Regions from separate parts of the Homo sapiens genome. Here regions 2, 3 and 4 are each linked to region 1. The links come from fine-mapping of genetic effects on gene expression. A gene starts in region 1. Each other region holds a variant in brackets. All regions are shown on one strand. Distances are from middle to middle.

Region 1 (5,000 bases):
AAGGCTGCTTTCCGGCTCCTGGGCTCTGACGGTGAGGCCCTCCCATCCCCCCTGCTGTCCACCTTCAAAGCACCAGGGCCCCCGCTTATTCTTGCCCCGTCCACACAGGGTCTCCACTCATGGACATGCTGCAGTTAGCAGAAGAGCCAGTGCCACAGGCTGGGCAGGAGCTGAGGGTGTGGCCTCCAGGGGCCCAGGAGCCCTGCACCGTGAGGCCAGCCCAGGTGGAGCCACTACTGCGGCTCTGCCTCCAGCAGGGACAGGTGGCTGCCCCACCGCCCTCATCCTGACCCCCAGCCCCGGTAGAGCCCTGACTGGGAGCTAGCCCCAAGCTTCTCTTTCCTTACCTCCTCCCTGCAGCTGTGTGAGCCGCTCCCATCCCTGGCAGAGTCTAGAGCCTTGGCCCAGCTGTCCCTGAGCCGACTCAGCCCTGAGCACAGGCGGCTGCGGAGCCCTGCACAGTACCAGGTTGGGGGGAGGCCCACCCTGTCATTCTGCCCTGTGCGCCCCCGCCCTCACCCTGCCCACCGCTCCTGTCCTCTGCTCCCTGCAGGTGGTGCTGTCCGAGAGGCTGCAGGCCCTGGTGAACAGTCTGTGTGCGGGGCAGTCCCCCTGAGACTCGGAGCGGGGCTGACTGGAAACAACACGAATCACTCACTTTTCCCCACAGCTTGTCCTGTGTTGTTTGTGTCGTTTGTTCACCCAGCCCACGGGCTGCGCCTCCCGGGCTGCGGCTGGGCTGGAGTCGGGAATCTGAGCTCGAGGTAGCAGGAAGATTTGCATCCCAGTGAAAGCACAGGCCCTGCCGGCGTGGGAGACAGCCCTGTGCTGAAGCCCGAAGGGCAGTGAGGAGTTCCCCGGCTTTGGGTAGGCTGTGGGGAGTCAGATCCCACACTAGAACTACAAAGCCACAGGCAGGGAGGGCTTTGGTGTCTGCCTTGGAGTTGAGGGAGTTGCTGCAGACCTTTCCTTGCTAGAGGCAGGCTGGGGACAGGACAGGGTTGGGGGTAGTGCCAGGTAAGAGGGTCCAGCCGTGGCCCTGGGCTCCCACGCCTGCCTAGGCACTGCCCCCCAGGCTCAGGGTCAGTGAAGACGTCTCAAACTCCCCAAGTCAAAAGGGAGTGCTCAGGTGTCTCCTGCCACTGCTGCTGCCAACCCAGCACCACCCTGGCATCTGGCGTCAGGGACACAGCTCCTGACCCAGCAGCCCACGGAAGGAGAGGAAGAATGGGGAAGAAGTTGAAGCTCCAGGAGATGACTCAGCCCCAGACACCTGGCCAGAGTGGCACTGCACGTGGCTGTGCTGGGCTGGCCCTGCCTCTGCACCAGCAAGTTCCTGATCTCAGGGTTCCGCCAGTTTGGGCAACGTGAGCTTCAAGAGGAACTGCTTGGGGGAGAGGTTCTAGGCTTGGCAGGAAGTGGAGGCTGGGGGCCTGGGCCTCTCTTGTCGAAGCAGCCTGAGGTGGCACAGACAGGCAAGGGTGTGGGGGGAATGCTGACCGCCTGGGGCACTTCCGTCTGCCCAGGCATTCCACCAGACCAGCTCACCTGGCTCCCCGGGCTTCAGGGTGGGCAGCACCACTGTGTGGTTGGCTGAGGGTGGAGGGTGGGGACTTGGAGCAGAGGCCCAGTCCAGCCAGCCCCGGGGAGTACGAGCTAGGAGAGAGATACAGACTCACACACATTGGACAGAACACACCACACCCCAGGCACCCCCAGGGCACCCGCGCACTCCGAGGGGCCCAGCCAGAGTGGCTGTATTCTTCCGTTCTTGCACTGCTGTAAAGAAATACCTGAGACTGGGTAATTTCTAAGGAAGAGAGGTTTAATTGGCCTGTGGTTCTGCAGGTACAGGAAGCATGGCTGGGGAGGCTTCAGGAAACTTACCATCTTGGTGGAAGCGGAAGCGGGCAGGTCTTACATGGCCGGAGGAAGGGGTGGGGCGGTGCCACGCACTTCCAGACAACCAGATCTTGAGAAGTCTTATCATGGGAACAGCACCAAAGGGGGAAGTTGCCCCCAGGATCCAATCACTTCCCACCAGGCCCCACCTCCAGCACTGGGGATTACGTTTCAACATGAGATTTGGCCAAGGACCCAGGACCCAGAGGGGCCTGCACAAGCTCTGGAGGGGCCACCGCTCCTCTGGTGTCTTCACTGCCCCCTCCACACCTCCGGGCTGCCCCAAGCTCACCCAGTCATGCCTGTTGCAAGGTGTCTGACAGAGCCAGCGTGCAGGGGGCGGAGCCAGCGTGCAGGGGGCGGGGCCAGCCCCTAGCCCCAGGCCCAGTGGGGAGCTGACTGCTGCTTGGGGGCTGAATCAGGCCTCGACTCAGGGTGGGGCCCAGACTCCTGGACCCTGCGAGGACCTCCTCAGAGCTGTCCACAACTGCCCTGAGCTCCCTGGTCAACAGGGGCTGGTAGTCAGGGTGGGGGCCCTTCTCCCCCTTTCTTCGTGGATCTGCCAGCTCTTGGGGATCCTGTTCTCAGGGCCCTGGTGGGTAGAGCCACACCACAGGCACTCAGGCTGCAGGTGGCCACTCCCCTCCAGCAGCCCAGGCAGGAGGGCCCCTCAAAGGCCCATTGTAGGCACGTCCGTGTGGCTCCCCAGCCCCCGCAAGCTCACGCTAGCGCACGCCACCACGCCCGTCCGTGGTCCCGCCCGGGGCGGCTTCTAGGTCAGTCCTGGGCACAACTTCGCAGGAGGAGCAGCGGCAGGTGCTGCAGGCAAGGGCCGCCATGGCTGGGGGTGTGTGGGGCCGGAGCCGGGCCCGGGAGGCTCCCGTGGGGGCTCTAACCCTGACAGCACTGACTGAAGGAATCCGGGCCAGGCAGGGGCAGCCCCAGGGACCCCCTTCCGCAGGCCCTCAGCCCAAGTCCTGGGAGGTCAAACCTGAGGCTGAGCCACAGACCCAGGCACTCACCGCCCCCTCTGAGGCAGAGCCTGGACGTGGGGCCACCGTCCCTGAAGCTGGCAGCGAGCCCTGCTCCCTCAACAGTGCCCTGGAACCAGCCCCTGAGGGGCCCCACCAGGTGACGGGGGAGGGAAGGGATGTTGTGCGAACCGGCCTGGGGGTCCTGTGGATGGTAGGTGGAAGGCGGGGTGGCAGGGGGGCGGTGCTGGCCCCGGGGGAGGTCAGCGTGAAACAGGCTGGTGAGCAACAGAGGAGCAAGGGATTTTGTAGGAAGCCAGGTGGGAGGCCGAGGGACCAGGAGGAGAGCTAGGAGAGGTTTGGGCACTTCAGACGCCCCACCCATCCTGCCCTAGGTTCCCCAGAGTTCCTGGGAGGAGGGAGTTCTTGCCGACCTCGCGTTGTACACGGCTGCCTGCCTGGAGGAGGCTGGCTTTGCAGGGACCCAGGCGACAGTGCTCACCCTGTCCTCAGCCCTGGAGGCCCGGGGCGAGCGGTTGGAGGACCAGGTCAGCCTTCACCCACTTCATGCCCTACAGAATCCTGCCGGTTCGGGCACCAAGGTGGTGGGAGGGGCCTGGAGAGCGCAGCCTGACCCTGCCATCTTCAGGCTGCTCCTGCCAGGCGGGATCAGGGTGGGGGTGGAGGTGGGGTGCAGGCCAGAGGGGAATGGACGGTGGAGGAGGCCTGACTGCTGAAGTCTGCCCCCTTCCCCACCAGGTGCATGCTCTGGTGCGTGGGCTGCTGGCGCAGGTGCCCAGCCTAGCGGAGGGGAGGCCCTGGAGGGCGGCCCTGCGAGTGCTGAGCGCACTGGCCCTGGAGCATGCGCGGGACGTGGTGTGTGCGCTGCTACCCCGCTCTCTGCCCGCCGATCGGTAACCCAACCGTCCTGGCCCTGCGGTCCCCACGCGGCTTCCTTCCCTCTTCCCGCTTGGCGGTGGAGTCTGGCCCCAGAAGAGGGAGCTGAAAAGGGGCAGGGCCTCCTTATTCCAGCCCCGCGATGACTCATGCCCCGTATCCATTCCCGCTCCCCTCATTTTTAGCTCCGCAAACTCCCCCCACACTCCTGCCACAGAGTTTCTGATGCTGGGCTCCTCTCTTGGAGCCACCTTCTATCTTCGGGTGGCCTCCCCTGGAGACCGTCCTGGGGTTGGCTCCGGAGTGGGGTGAATGAGGCTGGGGGGCTAACGTGCCTGGACACCCCTGGCTCTTTGGTTAATTGGCCCCAGAAGTTATCTTTGGTTTTATTCTCTGTGGCAATTTTTTTCTTTTTAATAATGCCAGGTTTGTTTCACTGTCGCTGACCCAACGGGACTCCCAGTGGGTCCCCACCCTGCAGCTCAGCTTGAGATAGGCTATGTTGTGGTCTGCACAATTAACCCTTCATTTGTTTCTCTGAGATTTGGGGATGGGGGGAGATGGGAGGGGTTTCCTGCCCCTCCCCTGCTGGAGTCCTACTGGCTGCCTCCACCCTGGCTGGGGACTCCCTACATTCCCTGGACACCCACCCATCTCTTGTCTCACACCAGCCCCCTCCAAACCCTCAGGGTAGCAGCCGAGCTCTGGCGCAGCCTAAGCCGTAACCAGCGTGTAAATGGGCAGGTGCTGGTGCAACTGCTGTGGGCGCTGAAGGGTGCTTCGGGGCCGGAGCCCCAGGCACTGGCGGTAGGTGGCTCCAGCCATTACCAGGGGGTGGGGGCGGGGGTGGGGGGTGGCGAGGAGCGGGGAGGATGGGCATAGGGAGTTTGCACCTAGGTAACTGCTCCTGGAATGTCCCATGCGTGTCTGAGGCTGTCCCCATCCTGTTGACAGCACGCCTGTCCCTCTGCTGCCCAGTGCAGCTCCAGGCGTGCCCCAGGCCTGAGTGGGCCACTTGCTCCACAGGCCACACGTGCTCTTGGGGAGATGCTGGCTGTTTCGGGCTGCGTGGGAGCCACGAGGGGCTTCTACCCACATCTGCTGCTTGCGCTGGTCACACAGCTGCACAAGCTGGCCCGCAGCCCGTGCTCCCCCGACATGCCCAAGATTTGGGTTCTGTCCCACCGAGGGCCACCACATAGCCATGCCAGGTGAGAGGCAACACCAGGT
Region 2 (5,528 bases), 150 kb after region 1:
GGCCACCGCCTTCCCAGACAGAGCCACCTTGGCCCCTGACTTGCGTCTGTGGCCCAGCCCCTCCCTCCCATGTGGCGGGCTCCGCCCTGGGGCCTCCCCGACTCCACTGCACCTCCCGGCACCCACTCAGCGTGGTCTAGCTCGCAGGGGATGGCCCCTTTGCCTCCCTCCCACCCAGTCCTCAGAGGCTGACACAGGGAGGTATCTGGAACATGCCAGGCGCCAGCCCCATGGGCCTTGATCGCCTCCCCGGAGCAGCCTGGGAGCAGCAGTGAGCGTGCAGGCAGGGTGCTGGGCACAGAAGAGTCCCAGGCTGCTGGCGGGGCCCCGCGGGACTCTAGGGGACTCTGGCTTCTCTAGGAAGGAGGGTCCCGGAGTCCCTTCTCCTGCAGCACCCTTGCTCCCGTCTCCTGGCTGGGACCCAGGTGTCTGGTCACCTCCCCCAGAGGGGTGGGTCTCAGGGACAAGCCATGTCCTCCGGGAAGCCACATGCCCTGGGTGGCCCCTCTCCAGCCGCCGCCTCTGCCCAGCTCTTGGTACAGATGCCCCAGGGGAGCTGATGCCCTGGGGGAGGGGCGTAGCCCACGGCTCCTCTGCGACAAGGGAGTTTCAAACACAGGGGCCCTGGCTGGGCCCACCCCACCCATCCCCAGCTTCTCCCTGCAGCCTCTGGTCTCCTCTCTTCAACCCCAAGGCTGCCCCTCCGCACAGAAGCCGCCCATGGCTGTCCCGGCCCTCCAGCCCACCCTCCTGAGGGATCTGCCCGCCTCCCACCCCCGGCCTCAGCACTCCTGGTGTGCTCCTCCTCACGGGAAGCCCTCTGCCGACCCCACAGCCCCCTTCGTCCCGGAGCACGGAGCACGGAGCACGGCTCGCCTGTCTCAGAAGCGTTAGGCCCCGCAGGCGCCTGGCCCGGCCTCGGCTCCAGCTCCACCCTCTCTACTGGGGCCCTGCCGTTGCCCCTGCTCCCCCGGCCGGGCGGGGGTCTCCTGCCCATTTGCTGCAGTGCTGGGGAGGGGCTGTGCTTTGCCGAGCGGGGCACTGGCGGTGCAGCAGAGGCGTCAAGAGGCGGCACCTGTAGACACGCAGTCGCGGTGTGTGAGACGCGCGGGCTGGGGCGCGGCAGGACGCAGGGCAGCGGTGCTGGGACCATTACCCCAGCGTGGTGGCGCGGGCGCCGCAATCCCGGGCGGCACGAGGCTCAGGTATGGGAAGAGAGACGGGAAGATGAATTGCAGACTAAGCCAGAGGGTGGCCAGGAAATCGGGAGAGGAAAAGGGCGGGGAGGGAGGGGGAAGAGCCCGCCGGGCCTCCAGGAGGCCTCGCCTGCCCGTAGGTGGCTGGGCCTGTGTGTATAAAGTCGGGGCTGGAGCGGCTGCAGGGGAGCAGCCGTGAAATGGGGGCAGGGAGGGCGGCGAGGAACTGGGGACAGATCCTGGGGCCACTGTGGGGGCAGCAGGGGCCCCTGCTTCTGTGTAGAGAGGATCGTGGGGGCACAGGCGGGAGCTGCCACAGTCCAGGGAGGTCGCTGGCCCGGCCCCTCACCCTTCTGTTCCTGCTGGCGGTTCCCTGCAGAGATGGTTCCTCACCCACCGTCTCTGCCCTCTGGGTCCTGGGCGTATCGCATGGGGGACGGGACACTCTGTCCGCCTTGTGCCCTGCCTGGGCCCGCTGCCCTATGGAAGAGCAGGAGGCCGGCACGGGTGCCTCCGAAGGGCAGCCTCGCAGCACATCTGAGGGTGCTTGGTGCACCGCCCTGGCACCACCATACCTGAGAGCTCAGGAGGTGCGGGTGGTGCGGAGGGCTCGCGCGGGGGTGGCTCTGCGAGTCTGGGAGGAAGGCTCTGGTCTCCTCCTCACCTTGTCCACGCGTCTTCTCTGGAGCAGGGTGGGGGCTGCCATCGCCTTGGAGGCGGGTCAGGCGGTGGGGCGTGGGTGGAGACGGGGCCTTGGACCTCGTCACTGGCCTTGGTTAGGTCAGGTGGGCACCTCCCCAGCCCCCCGGCCCAGTCACCAGGCCACCCCCGCCATGGTGGCAGAGGGGCTGGACTGGAGTCGGCCTGACCTCTGCCCTTCCCCAGCTGGAGGTAGAGCGGGGGCCGTCTCTCAGGGCTCAATCACCTCATCTGTAAGAAGACGCTCCTCCCATCGGCCATCCACACAGGGGCCTCATGAGCAGTAAAGAGAGGGACCCGTTCAGCAAGCCCTTCGTCAATCTGAGAAGGCTTCTTGGAAGAGGGGGCTCTGTTCCGAGGGGAGGGCGTGGAGTGGGATGTGCCTCTCCAGGTGCACCGGGGCGGGATTTACAGGGGTGCCCCCAATCCAAGACCGGAGATGTCTTGGCCACGTCTGTGGGGCTTGCAGAGGGGCCTGGGGGAACAGAGCTTGGCTCCTGGCAGGAGGGGAGCAGGGAAGGAGCAGGCATGGGAGGGGCACCCAGAGCTGCCATCCATGGGGGGTCCCCAG[C/T]TCAGCCCAGCTCAGCTCCCAGAAGGCTTTCCTCCCCCTACTCAGCCGCAGTGCGCTGCCCATCACTGCAGTCCCCACTCCTCCTTTTCAAACCCCTCATCCGCTGGGTCTGTCCCCTCACCCTCCCTTCCACAGCCCTTCCCAGAAGGTAAAACCCAGCCCTGCCCAGACCTGTGTACTAGGGACAGAACAGCCCCAACTCCTCCCACTTTCTGCTGAATTTGGGGAGCTGACTTAAGCTGAGTTCAGAAACTCTGGGGCCCTGGACAGGGCGCTTAGGGCCACGTTGAGGTTACGATCAGGAAGGTATGACGTTCAGCATTCTCCAAAAGAGAATTATTTCTGCAGGAATTCATGTGACAAGCCCAGACACACTCCTGGCTCCCGCTGTCTAGCACTCTTTAGCCATTAAATCTTACCCACCCACATACACGTAAATAACATTTAAAACGCACTATATAATAATGAATACAAAATATGTTGTCTAATCATTCTTACCTGGAAAGACCTTTATGGAAAATTCCAGGGCCAGGCTGAGCTGCTGCCCACACCCACAGGCTAGCAGAATCCAAGAGGGACAGTGTGGGGGCGGGAGGGCCACACGGACCCCTTCCTTCCCCCAGACCTCCTTTCTTGGTGACAGGGAGAAGGAGCAAGGTGAGGAGGCTTCTCCACCGTGAGTCTCAGACGGAGAGCTGTGCCCTCATTCACCTTTGGAACCTCTGACCTGAGGCACCTTGAGACGCAATAATATTAATACCTTAACTGCAAGACTCCGCGACTCACAGAGAGATGTAAGTGCAGGTAACAGAGAGCTGAAGGAACAATGACTCCAACAAATTCAATGGAAATTTAATTTCTATGTTGTAAAAGTCCAGAAGCTGATGGCCCAGGGTGGCCGTGGTGACTGCTTCACAGAACGCTCTGGATTGAGGCTCTTTTCATCTTGGCCTGTACTCCCAGGGTCTCCTGGCCCACAATGTCAGCTTCCACTCCAACCATCACATCTGCATTTGAAGATGAAGAAAGGTGAAAGAGGTAAAAACAAAAGGAGCATATGAGGTGATGGGTGGATGAACGGACAGACAGCTGGACGTGTGACAAGAAAGATGAGGAAGACAGCAGGATGGGTAGGAACGGGAGGATAGTGGCTGGATGGAAGGATATATGGATGGTTGATGGTGGGTGAATAAATGGTGTGTAGATGGGTGAACAGGTGGGTGAGTGGATACGTGGATGGTCAGTTGGGTGGATGGATGGGTGGATGGGTGGATGGATGGATGGGATGGTGGGGGAATGGGGAGATGGGCAGATGAGTGGGTGGATGATGGGTGGGTGGATGGATGGAAGGGTGCGTGGGTGAGTGGGTAGATGGGTGAGTGGTTGGGTAGGTGAGTGGGTAGATGGATGGATGGGAGGATGAGGCATGGGGGAATGGGGGATGGGTGGGAGTGGGTGAGTGGGAGGAGGGTGAATGAATGGATGGGCGGGTAAGTTGGTGAGTGGGTGGGTGAGTAGGGGGTATGGGGGTGAGTGGGAAGATGAGTGGGTGGGTGGGGGGGTATGGGGAAGAGTGGATGAGTGAGTGGATGGGTGGGTAGGGGGTTAGAGAGTCAGTGGATGAGTGGGTGGGTGGGTGGGGGTTGGAGGGTGGGAGGATGAGTGGGTGGGTGGCTGGGTAGGGGGTTGGAGGGTGTGTGGGAGGATGAGTGGGTGGGTGGGGGGTAGGGGGCTGAAGGGTGGGTGGGAGGATGGGTGAGTGTGTGGGTAGGGGGTTGGAGGGTGGGAGGATGAGTGGGTGGGTGGGTAGGGGGTTGGCAGGTGGGTGGGAGGATGGGTGGGTGGGGGGTTGGGGGTGAGTTGGTGGGTGGATGGGTGGGTAGGGGGATGGGGTTGCCTGGGTGGGTGGTTTAGGAAGCTGTGGAATGACTCCAAACGTGGAGTGAGGGAGCTCAGTTTGTACCACCGAACCTTTGCTCATCTCTCCCCTGGGCCCTCTTCCCTCTTCTCTCCAGAGCCCTCCTCAAATCTCACACCTCCATTTTCAAGAAGCTGGCCTCACCCATGCAGCCTCTGTAGCTCTCCTTCCCCTCCAAGCTTGTTTCTCTCGGCGCTGCCACCGTCGGATTCCTGTGCTGGTTCTTGCTGGTTTTCTTCACCTCCTGACCACCAGAACACTGGCGCCGGGAGGGCAGGGTCCGTGTGTTTCCACGGTTGATTTCCTAGAGGCTGCAGCAGCGCCTGGCACCGAGGAGGTGCTCCATCAATATTTGTTGAAAAGAAAGAAAAGGAAAGCAGGATGGAGATGGACTGACCCTGCCCAGCACCCCTGTCCAGCCCCTGCCCAGCACCCCTGTCCAGCCCCTGCCCAGCACCCCTGTCCAGCCCCTGCCCAGCACCCCTGTCCAGCCCCTGCCCAGACCCCTGCCCAGCCTCCCCTGTCTATTTTCCAGACAGCAGCCAGAGGCGTCTTTGCAGACACCACTGTCCTGCAGCAACCCTCTAAACCCTTCGCCGGCTCCACAGTTTGATCCAGGTCAGTCTGAGTTGCTCAGTCAGTCCTGAGACCTGCCCTCTCTTGTCCCTGTTCTCACTGCCCCCTGAGGCTTCCAGTCTTCCTTTAGGATCTGGGCCAAAATGGCCTCCTCCAAGAAGACCCCAGGCTGTTCTGTGAGCTGGTTTCCCCCTGTGTCCAGGAATGCCCCCACTCCCACAGTAGTGAAGTCTACTTTCCACCTGCTACCATCAGAGTTGAGCCCAGTTCTGGGCCTGGCACACAGGTGGGGCACTCCACAGGGTCTGACAACCCCTCCCACTGACCTGGTCTCTCCTCTGTGCCCACCAGGGACTCTATACTTGGGCCTAGGACTCTCATTCTGCAAGTCCCGCCTGGGCCCTTGCGGCCTCCATGGCATCCAGGGCCTCTTGTGGCCCATAGCAGGTGTGGGCTCTGCTCTTCAGCCTTCTGCAGCCTCCTGGGATGCTGTTCTGTTAGCAGCTCTTCTGGGGCAGGTCACTTTGGCATCAGCCACATCCACTTTTGTTTTTTTGAAGTGATATAT
Region 3 (5,000 bases), 33 kb before region 1:
GCCAATCAACTGCCTTTGTACCCACCACATTCCCCCAAGGCCTGGTGTTCCTCCAGAGGTACTGCCTCTTCTGCTCCAGGCAGCCTTCCCTTCCCTGGAGGCAGAGGCCCCAGGGATCTGTGTCCTCACCAATGAGGTAAGCTCCTGGCCTCCATACCCAGCAGCAGTCAGGGGCGTTGACCGCCAAGTAGAATCAGTGGATCTGATTGCCTGGGCCCAGTGAATGGTGCATCCCGCTTTGGGTTCCTGGGGCCAGGAGGGGGCCCAGGATGGGCCAGGCGTGGCTGAGCCTGAGAGGCCAAGTGAGCTCCCTCTCCTCTCCGTGCCATCCTATCCCACCCCTTCACCAACCCCTCTTCCTTTTCCTTTCTTTCCAGGAAAAGTGGAAGCTCAGCACATACTGGCCAGTGCACCAACAGACAGGAACCTATGTCACTTTCAAGTGAGCATAGAGCCCAGGTTCTTCATACCCTCAGGAGCCCAGGATAGCTCTTGGCTCCTGTCCCACTAAGACACTTATCAGAGCCAGGGATGGGTGGTTTATTTAGCTGAAGTTTGCAGACTGGCTGGTCTGGGCTGGGAAAAGGGAGATTAGAGGCCAGGAGGAAAGTAAGGTTGTGGAGGGCCAAAGCAAAGTGTTTGTGTGTGTGTGTGTATGCATGTGTGAGTGCATGTCCGTGAGTGTGTGTATATGCACGTGTGTATATGTGAGGCTATGCGTGTGCATGTGTGTATGTATGTGCTCATGTGCGTTTGCACGTGCGCTTGTGTGTGCGTGTGCACGTGTGGTGAGTGCATGTATGTCAGTGCATGTGTGTGCGTGTGTGTATGAGTGCATGCTCATGAGTGCATGTGCACCTGTGTGGTCGTGAGTGCACGTATGTGCTTGTGCATGTGTGCCTGTGCAGATGTGTATATGAGTGCGTGTGTGCGTGTATGAGTGCGTGCGTGTACACATGAGTGCATGCTCGAGTGGGTGTGTGTGCATGTGTTTGTGCTCATGAGTGCATTCATGTGTACATGTGTATGTATGCTCGTGAGTGCATGTGTCTGCGTGTGTGTATATGAATGCATGCTCGTGAGTGCGTGCATGTGCATGGGTGTGTTTGCATGCTGGGTGGTGGTCACAGACATTCACTGGGGATGGAGGGCTCAGGGCTTGGGGAGGCGCTGACATCAGGATGGCCTGTGAGGAGTAGGGCTAGTCTGGGGGAGTCTTGGGCACTGGAGAAGTCGGGGTGGTCTAGACACTTGCAATGGGAGAGGCCCTGGGACCATGGGAACGTGTGGCATCCAGCAGGAAGGGCTGTGATGGAGAGGGTGCGCCGCTTACATGGCCCCTGAGGCTTGGTCCTGGTGTCCCTGGCGCAGGCTCTGGGTTGCCGGACCACGCACTCCAACCAGGAGGTGCTGCAGAGCTGCCTGCTCGTCATCTTTGCCACCAAGCCTCATGTGCTGCCAGCTGTCCTGGCAGAGGTGGCTCCTGTGGTCACCACTGAACACATCTTGGTGTCCGTGGCTGCTGGGGTGTCTCTGAGCACCCTGGAGGAGGTGAGTGTCCCTTGGGCTAAGGCCTTGGTCCCAGTATAGGCTCTGCTGGCCAGGCTTGGGCGGCAGGCAGCCCCCCAGAGAGCCTGAGAGGTGGCCGTGTGGCCCACCTGGATCAAGTGGCTGGATTTAGGGTTCCCTCCTGGTGCTGTACCTGGGAGGCAGACGCTGGAGCCCACCGCGAGCTGACGTGGACCTTTCCTGAGGCCCCTGCTGGGGCCTGCCCAGCAGGGCCCAGTCCTACAGACTCCCTGATTCTGACCTCTCTCTGGCCAGCTGCTGCCCCCAAACACACGGGTGCTGCGGGTCTTGCCCAACCTGCCCTGTGTGGTCCAGGAAGGGGCCATAGTGATGGCGCGGGGCCGCCACGTGGGGAGCAGCGAGACCAAGCTCCTGCAGCATCTGCTGGAGGCCTGTGGGCGGTGTGAGGAGGTGCCTGAAGCCTACGTCGACATCCACACTGGCCTCAGTGGCAGTGGCGTGGCCTTCGTGAGTATTGCCTCGTCCATCCCCGGCCCCACCCTCGGCAAAGAGGGGGCCCACCCCAGTCCCTCTGACAGCCTCTGCCCTCAGAGTCCAACCTTGAGGCCTGCGTGGTTGCTCCCCAGGCCCACTGGGAGCTCTGCTTGTCCCCGGGACTTCACTGCCTTGGGGATCTTTGAGGCCAGCCCCTTTGCAGACCGTTGGGCTCAGGCCTTGGTTCTGGCCACCCACGGCTACTGCTCTGGGCATTGTTCCTGAAGGTCCTGAGCCCCCAGGCTTTGACACCTATCCCCCCCAACCACCATGCCGCGGCTACAGGTGTGTGCATTCTCCGAGGCCCTGGCTGAAGGAGCCGTCAAGATGGGCATGCCCAGCAGCCTGGCCCACCGCATCGCTGCCCAGACCCTGCTGGTGAGTGAGGGTGGCCCCTGGGGAACATCGGGAAGGCCCAGGCCTGTACCTCTTCCAGTGCGCAGGGAAACAGCAGGCTCGAGAAGCTGGGGCCAAGGTTGGGGGATGCAACGAGGGCAGGCCGCACAGTGGGGACCGCACCACCTCCCCCCGTCACCAGGCCCTAACGCTCTCCTCAGGGGACGGCCAAGATGCTGCTGCACGAGGGCCAACACCCAGCCCAGCTGCGCTCAGACGTGTGCACCCCGGGTGGCACCACCATCTATGGACTCCACGCCCTGGAGCAGGGCGGGCTGCGAGCAGCCACCATGAGCGCCGTGGAGGCTGCCACCTGC[C/A]GGGCCAAGGAGCTCAGCAGAAAGTAGGCTGGGCTCTGGCCATCCTTTCCTGCCTCTGTGCCCCTGCCTCTCCCTGTGTCCCTTCCCCTGAGGACTGCGGCTCCCTCCCTCCTGCATGAGGGTCTCCTACTGCTCCTTCTCCCCTTGCACAGGGAAATGCAGGGGGCAGGACTTGGGAGGTTCCAGCAGGCGGGGGAGCCCCGACCAGTGGGGACACTCCTCCCTCCCCAGTGAGCAGAAGGCACCGTGGTGGTGGCTCTGCCCCTTGCTGCAGTGAGCCCACCTTGCTGCAACATTGGTTCTGAGGGGCCCAAGAGATGGCGTCTTGGTCATTTGCCCGCATGGTTGGGCAGTTGGTTGAGGCCATGAACAGAACTTACGGTAACAGGCACGGCTGGCCCAATGCCTGGTCTGGAGCTGGAGCTTGCCTTTGGCTTTCCAGGTGGCTCCGTGCAGCTACAGCCAGGCCGGCTGCCTCATCTCAGCTCTAGGGGGCACGAGCCATATGGGGTCTGCACAAGAGACCCTCTCCCCTGCAGTAAAGCCAGGGGCCCTGGCCTGATGGGGCCCCCATGGGGAGCTGGAGCCTGCCCTGCAGCCTGGAGAAGAGGGTGGCTGTGGTGGGCGTGCTCATCCCCTGCTAAGGAGCAGGAGCTGCTGGGCCAGGTCTGCGGCAGTGCTGGGGTGGCACCAGGTGGGCAGTGGTAGGTGGGGTGGCTTGAGGTCTGGGAGGGTGGCCCTGGCCAGCCAGGACACATGCAGACCCCTGGCTTTAGTCTGGATACAGGCTCCCTCTTTCCTCCCAATCCTAAGCTCCTGACAAGTGGCCAGGTGGCTCTGGGCCCTCCTGCCCCGTGCCTAGGTCAGGGGTCCTGGAATACCCCGTAGCTCTGGCACCACCACACTGGCCTCTGATGGCAAGACTTGGCCCCTCCACCTGTCCCTAACGGACGGCAGGTCAGGAAAGCCAGGACTCAGGGGAGAAGCAAACCCCCAGGATTGAAGGCTAGGGTTCTAGGGCCTTTGGGTGGGGAGGGCCCGGGCCGGACAGCCTCAGCTCCGTCCCCTGCCCCACAAGATTCACCTGGGCCTCCAGTCCCACGCTGGCCCCAACTGCTGCAGCTCTCGGCTTCCGCCCAACAGCCTCTGGAGGTGAGGCGGGAGCATGCCCTCAGCGAGGCTGGGCGGCGGGTCCTGCTGTGCCATCTCCCTGTGCGCCTGAGCAGATCAATCCACCAGTGCAAAACAGGGCTAACGGCACCTGCAGGACAGCAGCACGCTCCATCCCTCATGCTCAGCTGCCTCTGCGGCCACGGACTTCTGCCCTTCATCTGCTCTCTCTTACTCTCCTGAGCCTAGCCCGTCCGTAAGCTCCCTCCCCTGCCTGGTTCCCAGGGCAGGCTGACTCAGTTGACTGCTTGGTCCAAGCCTGGCCCTGGCACTTGTCAGGGTCAGCCTAAGGAGATGGGAATAAAGAGGCCAGAGAGCACCAAGTGAGCTCATGTTTCACCAGAGGTGGATAAAACCAAGTTCTGGGCTGGGCCCAGTGGCTCACATCTGTAATTCCAGCACTTTGGGAGGCCGAGGCGGGCAGATCACAAAGTCAGGAGTTTGAGACCAACCTGACCAACATGGAGAAACCCCATCTCTACTAAAAATACAAAATTAGCTGGATGTGGTGGTGCGTGCCTGTAATCCCAGCTACTTGGGAGGCTGAGGCAGGAGAATTGCTTGAATCCAGGAGGCGGAGATTGCAGAGAGCCAAGATCATGCCACTGCACTCCAGCCTGGGTGACAGCAAGACTCTGTCTTGGAAAAAAAAAAAAAGAAGGTCCAATGCCTGCCCCATAAGTTGAGGCCTGGAACCTTGGTCAAGCACAGGTGTCAGCCGAAGGGGGTGCTGGCACTGTGGACAGCAGAGGTCTCCCCATGCCTGCTACAGGCCTCTACATCACCTGGGGGCTTTGTAGGGCATGGAATTGCAGTTTCCCCTGCACGCTGTCACCCCAGGGGACTGTATGCCAAGCCTGGGCAGGCCTGGGAGCCTGGGGTCTGGTGCAGGCGGCCCCCTGAAGGAAGGTGGACAGCCCTTCTGACGGCCACCTGCATTCACACCAAGCCCATCTGCAAGGAGAAATCATTGACTTTGCACCAACACCTGTCTCCCCCTGGGACCTCTGACAAGCCCTGGGCACTAGGTGAGCTCAGCTCGGGAGGTGGAGA
Region 4 (5,528 bases), 130 kb before region 1:
CCAGAAAACACAGGAAATGACTCAAACACCAAAGACCCAACAACCAACCAGAAAACACAGGAAACAACTCGAACACCAAAGACCCAACAGCTAACCAGAAAACACAGGCAAATGACTCGAACACCAAAGACCCACCAACCAACCAGAAAACACAGGAAACGACTTGAACACCAAAGACCCACCAACCAACCAGAAAACACAGGAAACGACTTGAACACCAAAGACCCAACAACCAACCAGAAAACACAAGAAATGACTCGAACACCAAAGACCCAACAACCAACCAGAAAACACAGGAAACGACTCGAACACCAAAGACCCAACAACCAACCAGAAAACACAAGAAATGACTCGAACACCAAAGACCCAACAACCAACCAGAAAACACAGGCAATGACTTGAACACTAAAGAAGTACAAATGCCGATGCATGTCCCCAACAACCAACCAGAAAACACAGGCAAACAACTCGAACACCAAAGACCCAACAACCAACCAGAAGACACAGGCGAACGACTTGAACACCAAAGACCCAACAACCAACCAGAAGACACAGGCGAACGACTTGAACACCAAAGACCCAACAACCAACCAGAAGACACAGGCGAACGACTTGAACACCAAAGACCCAACAACCAACCAGAAGACACAGGAAACGACTCGAACACCAAAGAAGTACAAATGCCGATGCGTGTCTGAAGACAGCCATGCTGCCCAGGAAACGGGGAGGGGCAAGTCAAGCCAGTGCCAGGATGAGGAAGACCCAGAGTAAGGGGCTGTGGAGGGCACCTGTGTCATTGCAGAGCCTGGGAGTGTGGAACGCTCCTGATTTTGTTGGCTGGCTGCTGCTATTAAATCTAAAACAGCCCTGCTCTTTGACTCAGCAGATCGACCTCTAGGAATCCATTGTGTACCTTTGTTGTGGGTTGCAGAGTCCCCTGAAAAATTTACGTTCAAGCCCTAACCCCCAGTACCTCAGAACATGACTGTATTTGGAGATGAGGTTGTTGCAGATGTCATTAGCTGGGGTCATGCGGGTAGGCCCTAATCCAATGTAACTGGTGTCCTTATGAGAAGCTGGTCACATGAAGACAGAGACACAGGGAGAACGCGTGTGCCAACAGAGGCAGAGATTGGAGTGATTTTCTACATGCCAAGAACTGCCAGGAACTGCTGGCAACACTCAAAACTGGAAGAAGCAAGGGAGGATCCTTCCCCTACAGGTTTCAGAGGGAGCACAGCCCTGCTGATGCCTGGATTGTGGACATCAGGCCCCCAGAACTGAGAGAATTCATTTCTGTTGTCTGAAGCCACCTGGTCTGGGGTGTCCTGTTACAGCAGCTGCAGGAACCTGGCAAGGCCCAGGTGCACACAGACGCAAGAGCGGGGATACAGGCACGTGTGCACACAGATGTAAGAGCAAAGACATTCACTGCGGCGGAATTCACAGCACCAAAACGCTGGGATTGCAGGCTGTGTCCTTCCACAGGACACATTCATGGGACAGCATGCGGTTGCTGGAAAGAGCGCACACAGACGGAATGAAGAAGCACATGCGGGGCGCACAGGACGACTCCACACGATGAGGAGCACACACACGCAGGTTTGTGCCTACACAGGTGTTGGACAAGTATTTGTTGTGTCAACCTAAAAAGAAACTCAAGAGACAAGCTCTCCAAATAAGCGAGTTGATTTGAGAATTGCAGAGAATTGCAATTCGGGGTATTTGGCAGGCTATAGGTGTATCCAGGGGAGTTGGGGAAAAGGGGAATCTTAAAAACAAAAAGGGCCAGGCGCAGTGGCTCACGCCTGTAATCCTAGCACTTTGGGAGGCCGAGGCGGGTGGATCACCTGAGGTCAGGAGTTCAAGACCAGCCTGGCCAACATGGAGAAACCCAGTCACTACTAAAAATACAAAAATTAGCTGGGTGTGGTGGCTTGCGCCCGTAATCCCAGGTACTTGGGAGGCTGGGGCAAGAGAATCGCTTGAACTCAGGAGGCGGAAGTTGCAGTGAGCCGAGATTGCACCACTGCACTCCAGCCTGGGAGACAGAGCGAGACTCCATCTCAAAAACAACAACAACAAAAACAAGAACAAAAAAGAAGCCCACATAAGCTGTTTTCAAAGCCAAGGGTCTTTTACAGGAGTCTGTTACAGGAGCTGGAATTAGTGCGTGGGCTGAGACAGTCACTGCTGGGCAAGCGTCCGTCTGGGGTAGGCAACCCTGAGGGCGCCCTGTGGGTCCTGGAACCGTCTCCGTGCAGGAGTGTCTTGGGCTGCGTCCTGTCACAGGCCTCTGTATCTGAGGACTTCAGGGCTACCCCGACTCCATGTTGGTAGCGGCAGCTTTCACAGTGGACACACTCCACCATCAGGAAAGCTCATTCCACAGGAGTAGGGGCAGTAAGGGGGCTTTACCCTTTGTGCTGTATTTCCTGGAGAGCAGAAGGCCTGTGTGAATTGTAACTCGGAATAAACTTCACTAAAATAACGTGCACTTAGCTCTCTTTTGTAGACAAAAGTTGCCTGATGTATTGGCCAAGGGAACCCCAACTGCATTCCACCCCTTCTGGCAAGAGAACATCTCTCTTCACATCAGACCAATCAGAACCCCGGGGATCCACGGCGAGGGGATTTGGCTGTGTATGGACAGGACAGGGCAGTACTCGAGCAAGGAAGAGGACGTGAGCCTGGGTGTTCTGGGCCCCAAGTGGAAGGTCTGATCCGCTGTGCTGTGGGGCCAGACACCCAGGGCCAACCCCGGGCCACTCAGCAGGGGGTTTGCTGTGGGGAGCTTGTGCAGAGAGAGGCGAGTTCCATGCAGGCGTGGCAGGGCTTGTGTGGGGGTCTGCAGCTGGATGGTCCTTGAGAGAGGAGCCACGGGGCCAGGCGTTAGCACCCCTCCATCTACTAGTTCCTGGATGTGGCCCCAGGAAGGGGCATAACCTTGGAACAGACATCTGCGTCAGCGAAGGTCAAAGCAAAGGTGGCGGCCCCTGAGGGCTGTGGCCAGCAACACTCAGCACCTACCAGGAAGGGCAGCCGAAGGGGGATTGGAGAA[G/C]TGCATTTTCAGCCTCCCGAGTAGCTGGGACAACAGGCGTCCACCACCACCCCTGGCTAACTTTTGTATTTTTAGTAGAGATGGGGTTTTACCATGTTTGCTAGGCTGGTCTCAAGCTCCTGACCTCAAGTGATCCGCTTGCCTCAGCCTCCCAAAGTGCTGGGATTACAGGCGTGAGCCACCGCGCCCAGCCTAGGGCTGGATTTTATCTATGGGATTAAAGGGAGAGATGGAATCAGGAAGAGAGTAGGACTAGGTCTGCATCTGCACGCTGAACAGATTTGGCCAGGAGGACCTGCCCTGAAGAACAAGGCAGAAGCCATCAGTTTCGTTGAGTTGCCACAAAAGACTTGGTGTATTTCCCTTCAGACATCTCTCCTCTCCCAACCTGTAAGTCATCTGAGAGGGTCACTCCCTGTCTCTCGCCACGTGTCCAGGTGACAGACCTCAGGCCCCTTTAGGAAATCCTTAGATGCTCAGGCATGCGGCTCCAGGGCCGCGGCCAGCCGAGTTGCTGAGTAAACCCCAAGGAAGGTGATGGGCGATGGAGACCGTGTCCTACTGCTCGGCGGCCGCCGTACAGCCCACCACAGCTCCCCGGCTGCTGGATCCACCCGACATCTGTTCAGCAGTGTCCAAATACTGAAATTTTAACTAGTCACTCACTTTCCTTATTCCTTTTCAAATAAATTGTTTCCGCCCTTTCCCCTCTTTGCATGGTGGTTTTGTCATCTCCCACATCCGGAGTTGCAAAAAGGCCCTGAGGTGGCTGGGCACAGTGGCTCATCCCTGTAATTCCAGCACTTTGGGAGGCCGAGACGGGTGGATCACGAGGTCAGGAGTTCAAGACCAGCCTGGCCAAGATGGTGAAACCCCGTCTCTACTGAAAACACAAAAATCAGCTGGGCGTGGTGGCGGGTGCCTGTAATCCCAGCTACTTGGGAGGCTGAGGCAGAGAATTGCTTGAACATGGACATGGTGGTCGTGGTCCCCGGTGGAGACACTGCAGCTGGAGGTGGGGTGAGTGGACTGAGCACCTTTGAAGTAGTGTGATCAGAAGACGAGGCTGGCCGACCCCTCTGTGGAAAGGACACAGCCCTCCAGCTGTGGCAATGGGTGTGCAGGCCACAGGCTCACCTGTCCTAAGGCGGGGCTGCTCTGCCTTTGTTTGGATTGTGTGTGGTATCATGGCTCTCCTGCAGTCAGGCTGCCACACTTCCTAAGTGTGCACGTGTGGGGAGGGGAGGAGTGGGGAGTGTGAGTGATTCTGGGTGCTCAGGTGCATGACAGCTGGTCTCCCCTCATGGAGTTACCACTGTAACCGGACTCCAGGCTTCCACCATCGGCCCTCGAATTTTACATAGGATGGTTGGCCCCGGGAAAAGGAGCCTCTGAAGTTTTAAAATCCAATATGGCTCCAACATTAAGCTCACACTGGGGACCAGCTCAAAACCCACCCATTTCACATTCCCCAAAACGTTTCGTTTGGTGGGCCTGTGATTTAGCTCCCAAGAGGTCACAGATACAAACACAACGAAGCGAGCTATTAGGGCTGGACATGCACTCAGTGACGCAGCTGTCCCTCCACCCTGGCCCGGGTCAGGTTCTGCCAACTCCACACGCACACTCTTCGTTTGAAGGGTCCCAATGGGTTTGAGGACCTGTAAGACTGGTACGCACGGCGGACCCCATGAACACCCAGAACAACAGTGAGTAGAGTTTATGATACGTTGTAACTAGAATGACCCCAAATATCTTTATTTACTTGGCATTGTACTTCCCAAAGAAGAATATTGCAGCCACTGGGCCTCCCTTCAGAGTGCAGAGAGGCAGCTCCAGGAGCTGAGCCTGCTGGGATGCAACTCCTCCTCCTAGCACCATGGACTCCTTCATCTTTCAGTCAAGGCTGCCAGTGGCTACCACGTGGCCCTCCCATTCCTGGAGCTCTCAGCTGCATCCGCCACCTGCTCTCTCGACGGACTTTTTTTTTTTTGAGATGGAGTCTCACTCTGTCGCCCAGGCTGGAGTGCAGTGGCACGATCTTGGCTCACTACAACCTCCGCCTCCCAGGTTCAAGCAATTCTCCTGCCTCAGACTCCTGAGAAGCTGGGATTACAGGCGGCAGCTACCATGCCCTGCTAATCTTGGTGGACTTTACACTGGACACATGTGTGCTGAGCGCTAACACAAAGGCCAGGCAAGTGTCCCCTGGAGACAGAGGGGTGGAAGGCTAGGTCACAGGCATGGCTGTCAACGGACCCTGCTGTGCACCCATTCTGGCCGCGAAGTAGCTTCATGCATTCTCTGCCCAAGATAAATGCAGAGAAAACTCGGCTCTACAGGCTCACAGGGAGTGACGGCTGCTGGCCCCAGGAAGGAAGATGCTCCTTACGGGACACCTGCTGTGAGCCCCTTCTGTCACCCCACCCCCGCCTGGGTGGTGAGGAGGCCAACAGGGCAAGATGCA

What was found.
Region 2: its variant is fine-mapped to the expression of MROH6 in whole blood (INTERVAL, PIP above 0.99).
Region 3: its variant is fine-mapped to the expression of MROH6 in whole blood (TOPMed, PIP above 0.99).
Region 4: its variant is fine-mapped to the expression of MROH6 in cerebellar hemisphere (GTEx, PIP above 0.99).

Annotation. Positions count from the first base shown.
Region 1 is chr8:143,570,454-143,575,453 of GRCh38, reverse strand. It overlaps MROH6 (maestro heat like repeat family member 6), which reads left to right and starts at 2,682. Exons shown (of 14, transcript NM_001100878.2): 1 at 2,682-3,033; 2 at 3,269-3,421; 3 at 3,633-3,787; 4 at 4,460-4,577; 5 at 4,797-4,981. The coding sequence starts at 2,740. It overlaps NAPRT (nicotinate phosphoribosyltransferase), which reads left to right. Exons shown (of 13, transcript NM_145201.6): 10 at 1-31; 11 at 109-263; 12 at 361-468; 13 at 554-669. The coding sequence ends at 616. RefSeq lists an enhancer at 3,324-4,173.
Region 2 is chr8:143,416,920-143,422,447 of GRCh38, reverse strand. It overlaps MAFA-AS1 (MAFA antisense RNA 1), which reads right to left. Exons shown (of 3, transcript NR_186795.1): 2 at 4,529-4,707; 3 at 3,298-3,473. Among named protein-coding and RNA genes, the nearest start is that of MAFA, 11 kb to the left of the region's middle. The variant C/T (reference allele first, on the strand shown) is at 2,467.
Region 3 is chr8:143,603,504-143,608,503 of GRCh38, reverse strand. It overlaps PYCR3 (pyrroline-5-carboxylate reductase 3), which reads left to right. Exons shown (of 6, transcript NM_023078.6): 2 at 378-442; 3 at 1,372-1,551; 4 at 1,825-2,037; 5 at 2,350-2,442; 6 at 2,622-5,000. The coding sequence ends at 2,804. Among named protein-coding and RNA genes, the nearest start is that of PYCR3, 3.6 kb to the left of the region's middle. The variant C/A (reference allele first, on the strand shown) is at 2,778.
Region 4 is chr8:143,697,680-143,703,207 of GRCh38, reverse strand. It overlaps LINC02878 (long intergenic non-protein coding RNA 2878), which reads right to left. Exons shown (of 2, transcript NR_015445.1): 2 at 4,795-5,269. Among named protein-coding and RNA genes, the nearest start is that of LINC02878, 3.3 kb to the right of the region's middle. RefSeq lists an enhancer at 2,914-3,414. The variant G/C (reference allele first, on the strand shown) is at 3,062.